3 separate regions of the Homo sapiens genome follow, and all the other regions are linked to region 2. Evidence: fine-mapped expression QTL. A gene starts in region 2. Each other region holds a variant in brackets. All regions are shown on one strand. Distances are from middle to middle.

Region 1 (2,758 bases), 270 kb before region 2:
TACCAGGAAGCAAACCTCCCTCTTGACTCTTGTTCCTCAAGCAGAAGGTTCATGGAAGGAATTGGGGAAGAGGCTGTGGAACATTCTAGAAGAGAGCTGATTGGGCAATTCCCCAAACCTAGGAAGGAGAGGTCTGCAGGACAACTGTGCCTGGACTGTTCCAGCATCGTGAGGAGGTGCAGGACTAAAGAGGGCACATAGGTGCCGTGTGGTGGTGGAGGGTCTGGACCTTGAACACTGGAGCTTCTGACTTCACTGAAGACACACCTGGGCTCAGGCAACAGCACTGTCCACCTCTTGGAGATCAGGTGGGCCTGGACAAAGAACAGGTGAGCTGAGACCATGGAGGATGGAAGCCTCCAGGCCCCTTCCTCATTCTCCAGATATCAGACAAGCCTTCTGGGTTATTGTGTGACCCCAGGCAGGTGTGGAGGCGGCCATTCATATGATGAGTCTTAATTTCTTATCATTCTGGTAGGGTTGGGCCTGGTGAGATTTCTTGCACACTTGGTTGTGGAGTAAGATTCATATATGTAATAATGAGAACAGTGTGGCCACAGTGACACATAGTGCCACACAACCTTCACAACAAATGCCCCCGATTGAGAGCTGACCATGGGCCATTAATTGTGCCAGATGTGAAGCTCCTCATCTCATGAAGCATCACAGCAGCTCATGAGGGAGTCACGGTCGTGAACCCCATTTAACAGATGAGGAAAACCGGGCCTGGGGGCTCACACCTGTAATCCCAGCACTTTGGGAAGCCAAGGTGGGCAGATCACTTGAGGTCAGGAGTTTGAGAGTAGCCTGGCCAACATGGAGAAACCGCGTCTCTACTAAAAATACAAAAATTAGCCAGTGTGGTAGTGCATGCCTGTAATCCCAGCTACTTGGAGGCTGAGGTGGGAGAATCACTCGTACCCAGGAGGTGGAGGTTGCAATGAGCCAAGATTGTGCCATTGCACTCCAGCCTGGGCGACAGAGCAAAACTCTGTCTCAATACAAACACACAAAAAACAAAAAACAGTTGAGGAAACAGGGCCAGAGAAGTTAAGCCATTTGTTCAAAGTCACACAGCAAGTGAGGAGCAGAGCTGGGACTCACCCTTCACCCTGTCTTAACTCCAAAGCCTGTGGTCTTTTGGTTTTGAGTAGAAGGGTCTGATTTTTCCCAGTATCCAGGCCCTAGACTCCATGTTCAAGGAATCTCCCCAGCAGTCGTCTGAAGGTCAAAGCCAAGGTCAAGGCCAGGCCCAGTGCTCCTGGACAGATACTGGGATTTTCCACAGAGATGAGACCCTGAGTTTTTCATCTCATTGGGGAAAAATCTGGACATTCTACCTTCCATGTGATTTTTCTTACCTCTCTGTCATTTTTCCCCGGATACCTTGGGATTAATGGCAAAGTAATGCCGGGGTGGGTGTTGGGTGGCTTCAGGAAGGAAGGGGCTGAGGGCAGGAGACCGGTACAACCCAGCAGCCACCACATGGAACAAGGCTTTTAATAACACTGGATTTTTCCAGCAGGTCTGTGCGCTAATTAAACCTGCTCCTCGCAGCCACTGCAAAATGAAGGGAGTCTCACCTGAAAGCTTGTAATTTGCCAACACGAAGGAGAACAGAAGCAAGTACTCAAACATTACCCACAACCACTGCTTTGGAATATTGATTAGCAAGAGACGAGGCACATGCCAGCTTTCAACCCCTCGAACCCAATCAGA[A/G]TCAATATTTCTCTCCTCAGAGTGCAGAGGAGAAGACCCTTTCAATTCCGATCCAGAAAGAGCCCAGGGGCTGTGACATCTGCCAGCCCTACTGTCCTGTTCTGCTTCACTGAAAATGCTAGCATAGGTGAAGATATAAAAATTACAGAACTCATCAAAAGATATTATAAAGCCCCAGCCACACATCCTAATGACTCACAAAATGACTAGTCTCCAGCATGCAGCCTGTAATTAGAGCCTCGCTGTGCAGAATATACAGTCACAGCCCCTGCGTTGAGGCTCCATAAAGAGTCCAGAGTCTGACCCCTGAATTGTGCTCACACAGGGAAGGCAATGAAAGGTCGCGAGCTCACCCTGAGAAGTGAGAAAAAATCCTCAGAACCTGGAAGAGCTTGAGACTGTGCAAAAGGGAAGTGGAGATTTAAAGGAGCAAACTGGAAGGGTCAAGACAGGCAGGAAGGGGATGGTGGAAGCTGGAATACTAAACTTCGATCCCAACCTGCGGCTAGAATAGGATCCAGCTGTCATGGCTTTGGCAAGTCTGCGGTTCTCACTAGGACACATCCCAAGGTGCTAGCAGGAACTAGAGAAGGGGAATCTGGCATCCTGACTAGCATTTTGTGGGTACCCACAATACCACCGGGGCCCCCAAGCTGGAGTGGGGGACACAGATCAACAAGGGAAAAATCACCGAGTAGAACAGATGCACCCCCCCGCCAACCCCGATTCAGTTCTCTTATCTTGGCCCCATTTCGGATTATTTATTATTATTTTTACTTAGCTATTAAGTTTTTTAGAGTTGGGGTCTCATTCTGTTGTGCAGGCTGGAGTGCAGTGGCATGATCATAGCTCACTGCAGCCTTGAGTTCCTGGGCTCAAGAGATCCCCCCACCCCAGCCTCCCTAGTAGCTGGGACTACAGGCACACGCCACCATGCCTGGCTCCTCTTGGCCCCATTTCTGGAAGGACATGCAGAGATGAAGACAGCTGCAGAGGAGCCTACTAGATTCCCCTCCCCAAACTCAAAGTCTGCCCAGAT
Region 2 (2,758 bases):
TCAAATGATATTAATAACCAGTGATACTGTTTCTTAAAGGGCAATTAGGCAAAAAGAAAAAAAAAATCCCCCAAAGCCTGCTTACCCTTTTACTTTCTAAGTCACAGAAACCAAACAGTACATTTTAGGGAATGCCCCATCCGCCTTTATGTCTTGCAGGGGGTTTCAGAGCTTAATCTCTGTCAATGTGAACACAAACCAACTGTCTTTTTCTTCCTCTTCTCTAAACCGCAGAGTCCCTTCAAACGGGCTCCCTGCAGCCCACCACCCTAAGCCTTCATTTCTCTACCGCTCAACCTTTGAGGTCTACAGTATCCCCCTGGAAAGTGCTCTCGGTGTTTATATTTGCGGAAATTTAAACTCCCTGCTGAGCTGAGCATCTACTGTTGCATCTATAGATTCCAATGCCTGAGAGACCTCAAATGAGAAGAAAATAAAGTCCAGATGCAACTGAGCCAAGGGATTTGGCATCCGCGGAGAAAAGTGCACAGCAGTGCAATCCTCTATCCCAACCACGGCGGCAGAGCCCGGAGCTCTCTCTGGGAAGGAGCCTAAGGAAGTGGGGGGAACTGTGCCATTCACCCCTGCGGGGGGTGGGGAAAAGGCCCCGGCATGAAAAGTTTGCACGGAGCTAGGGGGCTGGTGCCACGGAAAGGGCACTTTCTGATGCCGGAAGGGACCCGCCGGCTGCGCCTCGCTCAGGCTGGCCGGGGCCGGTGTGACCGTGTGACCCCGTGCACACTGCGCTCGGGTTTTCGTGAATGACAGCAGCCTGCAACTCCCAGCCGGAGAGCAGCGGTGGCCACCGCCGGGCGGAAAGGGTTACAAGCCAGAATGCAAAGCGATTTCGCCCCGGGTGTGGGGGACCCCGGGTCCCCGGCCACCTCCGAGGCCGGGCGTGCTCTGCTCGCCTTCCTCCGCCCTGGGCGCCGGGGCGATCCTACCTTGCGCTCCAAGCTGGGGGTTCTCCATGTTCGTCGCCGCCGAGTCCCCCGCCGCCGAGGCGCTGGCCGCGGCTCCCGGGCCCGGGCCGGGGCCGCCGCCGCCGCTCAGTTCCGCCAGTCTCCGGTTGGTGGCCGTGAGTTCGGCTCGCAGGTTGGTCACCTCCTGGCTGGCCGACTGGACCGCCCCATCGATGCGGAGCGCGAGCTGCTTATTGTCTTCCATCATGCTCAGGATTTTGGCCTGGGGGCGAGAGAGGTGACAAAGAGCTGCATGATGCGCGGGGGGCGCGCGGCCGGGCACCCCCGGCTCTACCTGTTGTGTCCTCCGCGGCCCGGCTTCGCCCGCGCCCCGACCCCCAGGCACCGGCAGCGCCGGTTCCTCCGGCACAGGAATGACAGCGGCGCCTCCAGCCCTAGCCGCGGCGGTGGCGAGGCGGCGGGGGGAGGAGGCGGAGGAGAAAAAAGAGGAGGAGAAGGAGGAGGAGGAGCAGCGATCGCCGAGACCCCGGCGGGCGGGCGCCGAGAGCTGCTCCAAGAAGGACACCGCGCGCCACCAGGCACTCTTTAAATGGAGCCTACCATTCGCCGCCGGCTCGGGAGGGGGTCTCGGTCGGAGGCTGGGGGCACCCTTGGCCTCCCGCGCCCCCGTACTTCGGAGACACACCCCCCGGGGGGGCGGAGGCGGCGGACGGCAGTCGGGAGGGGGCCAAGGTGGCGCCCCTGGCGAGGGGCAGGGGTCGCCTGGACCGAGGCCGGCCCTCTGTCCCCTCCCTTGAGCGGTGGGGCAGCCCCCGCCCTGGAGAACTGGTGCCCCGAGCCGTGCTAAGGTTGGGGAGGTGCTGGGTGCTCGGAAGAGAGGGTGCTTGGAAAGGGGGCCTCAGAGGGGAGCCGGGGTGGATCTCCATGGAAGGGAGACGCTTGCGCCAGCTCAGGAGTGGAGTTCGTGCTCCACCGGTTCCTTAAACTGCGAGTACGAAATCCCCAGAGGGGAGCTGAGCTGGTGCCCCGCGTGCCTCTCACTCTCCACCCCCCACCCGCAGGCCAGACCTGCGCTGCCCACCCCAGGAGGGAGCGCCTATCTTCCTCGGCGTGGGCCGCTGGTGCTCCCGCCTCTCCACAGCCCTAGCCCTGTGTGTGCATCCAGGTGGAGGAGCAGCCTTAGCCAGCTCCTAAGCTTCTTAGCCGGGCTGAATATTGGCGGGGACAGAGATGAGGTTGAGAGATAAGAAGGAAGGCGTCGATGGGGCTTCTTCCCTTTCTTCTACTGGGAGCAGAAGAGTTGAGCCCTGCTGCCTCAGTTTACCCATCCCCTCTTCACAGAAGAACTGAGGTAACCTGACGTTGATATGCCCTCTCCAGCTCCTCTTTCTCTCCCAGACCACAGGCTTTGCATTTTTCACTGGGGCCCTGGATTCCAGCCACCAGACCTTGTTACCATAGCAAACTTCATTCCATGCAAATAGGACAATTTAAAACAGCCAGCAACCCTCTGGTCAACAGGGCGCCATCATTCCAGCTCAGTCAACCTCCGGAGAGCAGCAAAGAGCAGATTGCAGAAGCCAGTGGGGTGCTGCGAGGAAAAATGAGGCTGCCCACCCTTCAGGTTCTTACAGGAAGCCCATAAGAACCAAGCAAAAACTGCGTGTAGAGTGCTTTTATATGCATTCTTATCTCTTGTGAGTGAGGATTATTATTCCCATTTTAGGGATAAGGAAACTGAGGCTCTGCATAGGGTTAAGCAATTTACTTAAGGGGCCCGCAGAAACCAGGTGACAGCGGGACTGGAAGAAAGTAATCATCTGATTGCAAGTTCC
Region 3 (2,758 bases), 210 kb before region 2:
TCATGGTGTGGGACTGAGTCCACCTGGAGGCAGGGTGTCATCAAATTTGCTCAAGGTAGTCACAGAGGGCTGGCCTGCCAGAAGAGACTAATCCTGGGACACCCTTCAAAGCAATGCTACCTCAATATTCTGAGGAGGTGCTGAACATTTCAAGGGAAAGGTGGGGAAAGATGTGACAGCTCTCGGTGTCCCTTCTAACATCTTAAGCAGTTCTGCTCTGGCTCCAAACTTACATCCTCTTTCCAGAAAAACAAAAGTTCTTCAGTTATCGGGATCACCATCTGCAGAGGGCAGTTCAGGACCATCCTTGGGGTACTTAGATGGATTTTGAAGACCTTGCCCTTCTCAGGTTCAAGTTTTCATTCTTCCATTTACTCACTGCGTGACCTTGGGCCAAGTCTGTAACATCTCAGGGTTTGTCATTTCCCCCGTGCAACAGGGATCATCATAATATGCATTTCATTAAATCTAGGACACCATCATTTATAACATGCACTATCATTTGATGTATCACTAAGAAAACAAAGCTGCCAATTCAACTACCATGCCTTTAATATGAAGATGCATTCTTGTTTCAGAGACAAAAAATGAGAACAACGTGTGCTTTAGAATTGATAGAATTTAGTAAAATAGCTTGCTTCCCTACATTAAAAGAAGGTTGTAAGAGAGTAAATGAAACAATGTGCAAAAAAATCTTTGCGAACTGTAAAGCACTGAAAATATTAATGATTCTTAGCCAAAGAAACTTTCAAATGGCTTCATTTAAAATACTGATCTACTATTCGATGTTGCACAAGGCATTTAATTGTTTTAACGTATTCACTAAGTAGTTCCAAGAGCTGTATTTACAGCGTTTGTCTGAATTGTTTTCTACTTTTATAACATTCCCACCCTCTTATGATTTATTCGTGTAGCATCAACTTGTGAGTTTGAATGAGATTCAAGATTTGGGGCTTGATTTATAGTTGGAGTTGACTAACATTTGGGAACAATGAACTGTGTTATATAAAC[AC/C]ATAAATACCACAAGAGAAAGCTGACGTGCTAATTACTGTGAGGGGACAGGGTGGGGAAGAAAAAGCACCACAAAAATCCTGTTTCATCTCAGAGTTTTCTGACAATTGTGCTGTCGGTTGGGGGAGGGCGAGGAATTCCTCTGGACCACATTTCTCATGTTGCTTTGAGGGGGGAAATGGTTGAAAGATTTGGATTGTGGTTTCCCTTTGCAAAGAAAAAGAAACATTTTGGAGGCCACCAAAGAGCAGTTGGTCCATAAATCTCCAAATCTGAAAAGACGGAAGTTGTCTAGGGCCTTGGATGTCCTATGCCCTCAGAAGGACAAGCTGGCCATGGTGCTCCAGGCAGTGCCAAGGCCCCAGCACTGACTTCCTGGCCCATTTGGGCTGGCAGGCTACGGCTGGACCTGGCCTGTCCCCACCCTGGGAGGCTGGTTTTCTCATGACTCGGCTTTCTTGCAGGATGCCCCCAGTCAGAGGTCTGGAGGCCGCTCCTCTAGGCCACCCTCATGTCCTTGGGAAAGCAGCCTGGTGTCCCCAACAAGCCACACCCTGGAATCCGGCAGGCCTGAGTTCACATCCTGCCTCTATCATTTGCTAGCAGTTTGGTACTAGACTTTTCTGTGCCTTAGCTTCCTTATTTTCAAGACTGAATGAGCTAATGTGGGGTGGGAGGGGGTCATGTCCATCAGAGTGTCTAGAGCGGAGTGGACACTCATTAAAGTATTCCTTTTGGGAATCTCTGGTGGAACTTTGAGATTCATTCATTCTGCTGACATTTGCTAAACCTCACACTGTGCCAAACAATGGCTGGGGGCTGAGGATGCCACAACGAGGAAGGCAGATCTGGTCCAGGCCCCTGAGCAGAAAATCAGCCAACAGACAATCAAATAAACAAAATAAGAGAAATCCAGTGGATGATAAGAGTTCTGAAGAAAAGCAAGCAAGGTACGGGGTTGGAGAGAGATGAGGTGATGGGGGTGCGGTGCTCCCTTAGGAAAGGTGTTCAGGGAAGGTCCTGCCCTCTAAGGTACCTCGGCCTCCCAGTCCATGATTCTTGAACCCAAAAGTTCTCAACTGGGGCTGATTAATAATCATGAATATTGATCAATAATGATTAGTGATTATCATTGATAATTAATGTCTAGGGACATTATTATTACTGGGTAAGGAAGTGGTGGCTAGTGGGGTCTAGTAGGGTACAGGCCAGGAATCCTGCTAAACATCTATAATGCACCTGCAATGCACAAGACAGCCTCCGAAAACAAAGAGTATCCAGCCCCAAATGTCAACAGTTCTGAGGCTGAGAAATCCTGATCTAGCCCGTTACCTTGTATTATGTTTTTCATGATCCTTGGCAGAGTTGATGGTGGTGGAAATGCCCCTGGTGGAAGGGACCTGGCTTATAGACCCACCAGCACTGTGGCCTGTGATGGGGTGACATCAGACTGCAAGCCTCCCAGCCACTGCCATCTCCCGGGTCTACAGGCATGCAGCAATGCCTACCACCCACACGGCGAGCACTGTACATGCTGGCTTCATACCCTAGCCCTCCAAGGCTGGGGTTACTCCAGTAAAGCTTATTCTGCCTACCAGAAATTTTTAAAAAATCAAACCAAATAGGATTCTGGCTCTAGCCAGCTCTGGAGACAATTGTATTCGGAAATACTTTCAGAATAGGGCACTTGGAATTCAATAACACACTGTCAGAGTCCAATCAGTGCACTCCCCTGCACCCTTGCAAG

What was found. PIP is the estimated chance that this variant, and not a neighbour inherited with it, causes the effect. A credible set is the group of variants that fine-mapping cannot tell apart.
Region 1: its variant is fine-mapped to the expression of KAZN in whole blood (INTERVAL, PIP 0.90).
Region 3: its variant is the best candidate, but not a certain one, in a credible set for the expression of KAZN in whole blood (INTERVAL, PIP 0.56).

The regions. Positions count from the first base shown.
Region 1 is chr1:14,868,601-14,871,358 of GRCh38, reverse strand. All of the region lies in intron 1 of KAZN (kazrin, periplakin interacting protein), which reads right to left. Among named protein-coding and RNA genes, the nearest start is that of KAZN, 270 kb to the right of the region's middle. RefSeq lists an enhancer at 2,754-2,758. The variant A/G (reference allele first, on the strand shown) is at 1,720.
Region 2 is chr1:14,597,410-14,600,167 of GRCh38, reverse strand. KAZN (kazrin, periplakin interacting protein) reads right to left here and starts at 1,483. Exons shown (of 15, transcript NM_201628.3): 1 at 945-1,483. The coding sequence starts at 1,170. RefSeq lists a silencer at 657-816.
Region 3 is chr1:14,809,507-14,812,264 of GRCh38, reverse strand. The region is part of intron 1 of KAZN (kazrin, periplakin interacting protein); the gene reads right to left. Among named protein-coding and RNA genes, the nearest start is that of KAZN, 210 kb to the right of the region's middle. The variant AC/C (reference allele first, on the strand shown) is at 1,012.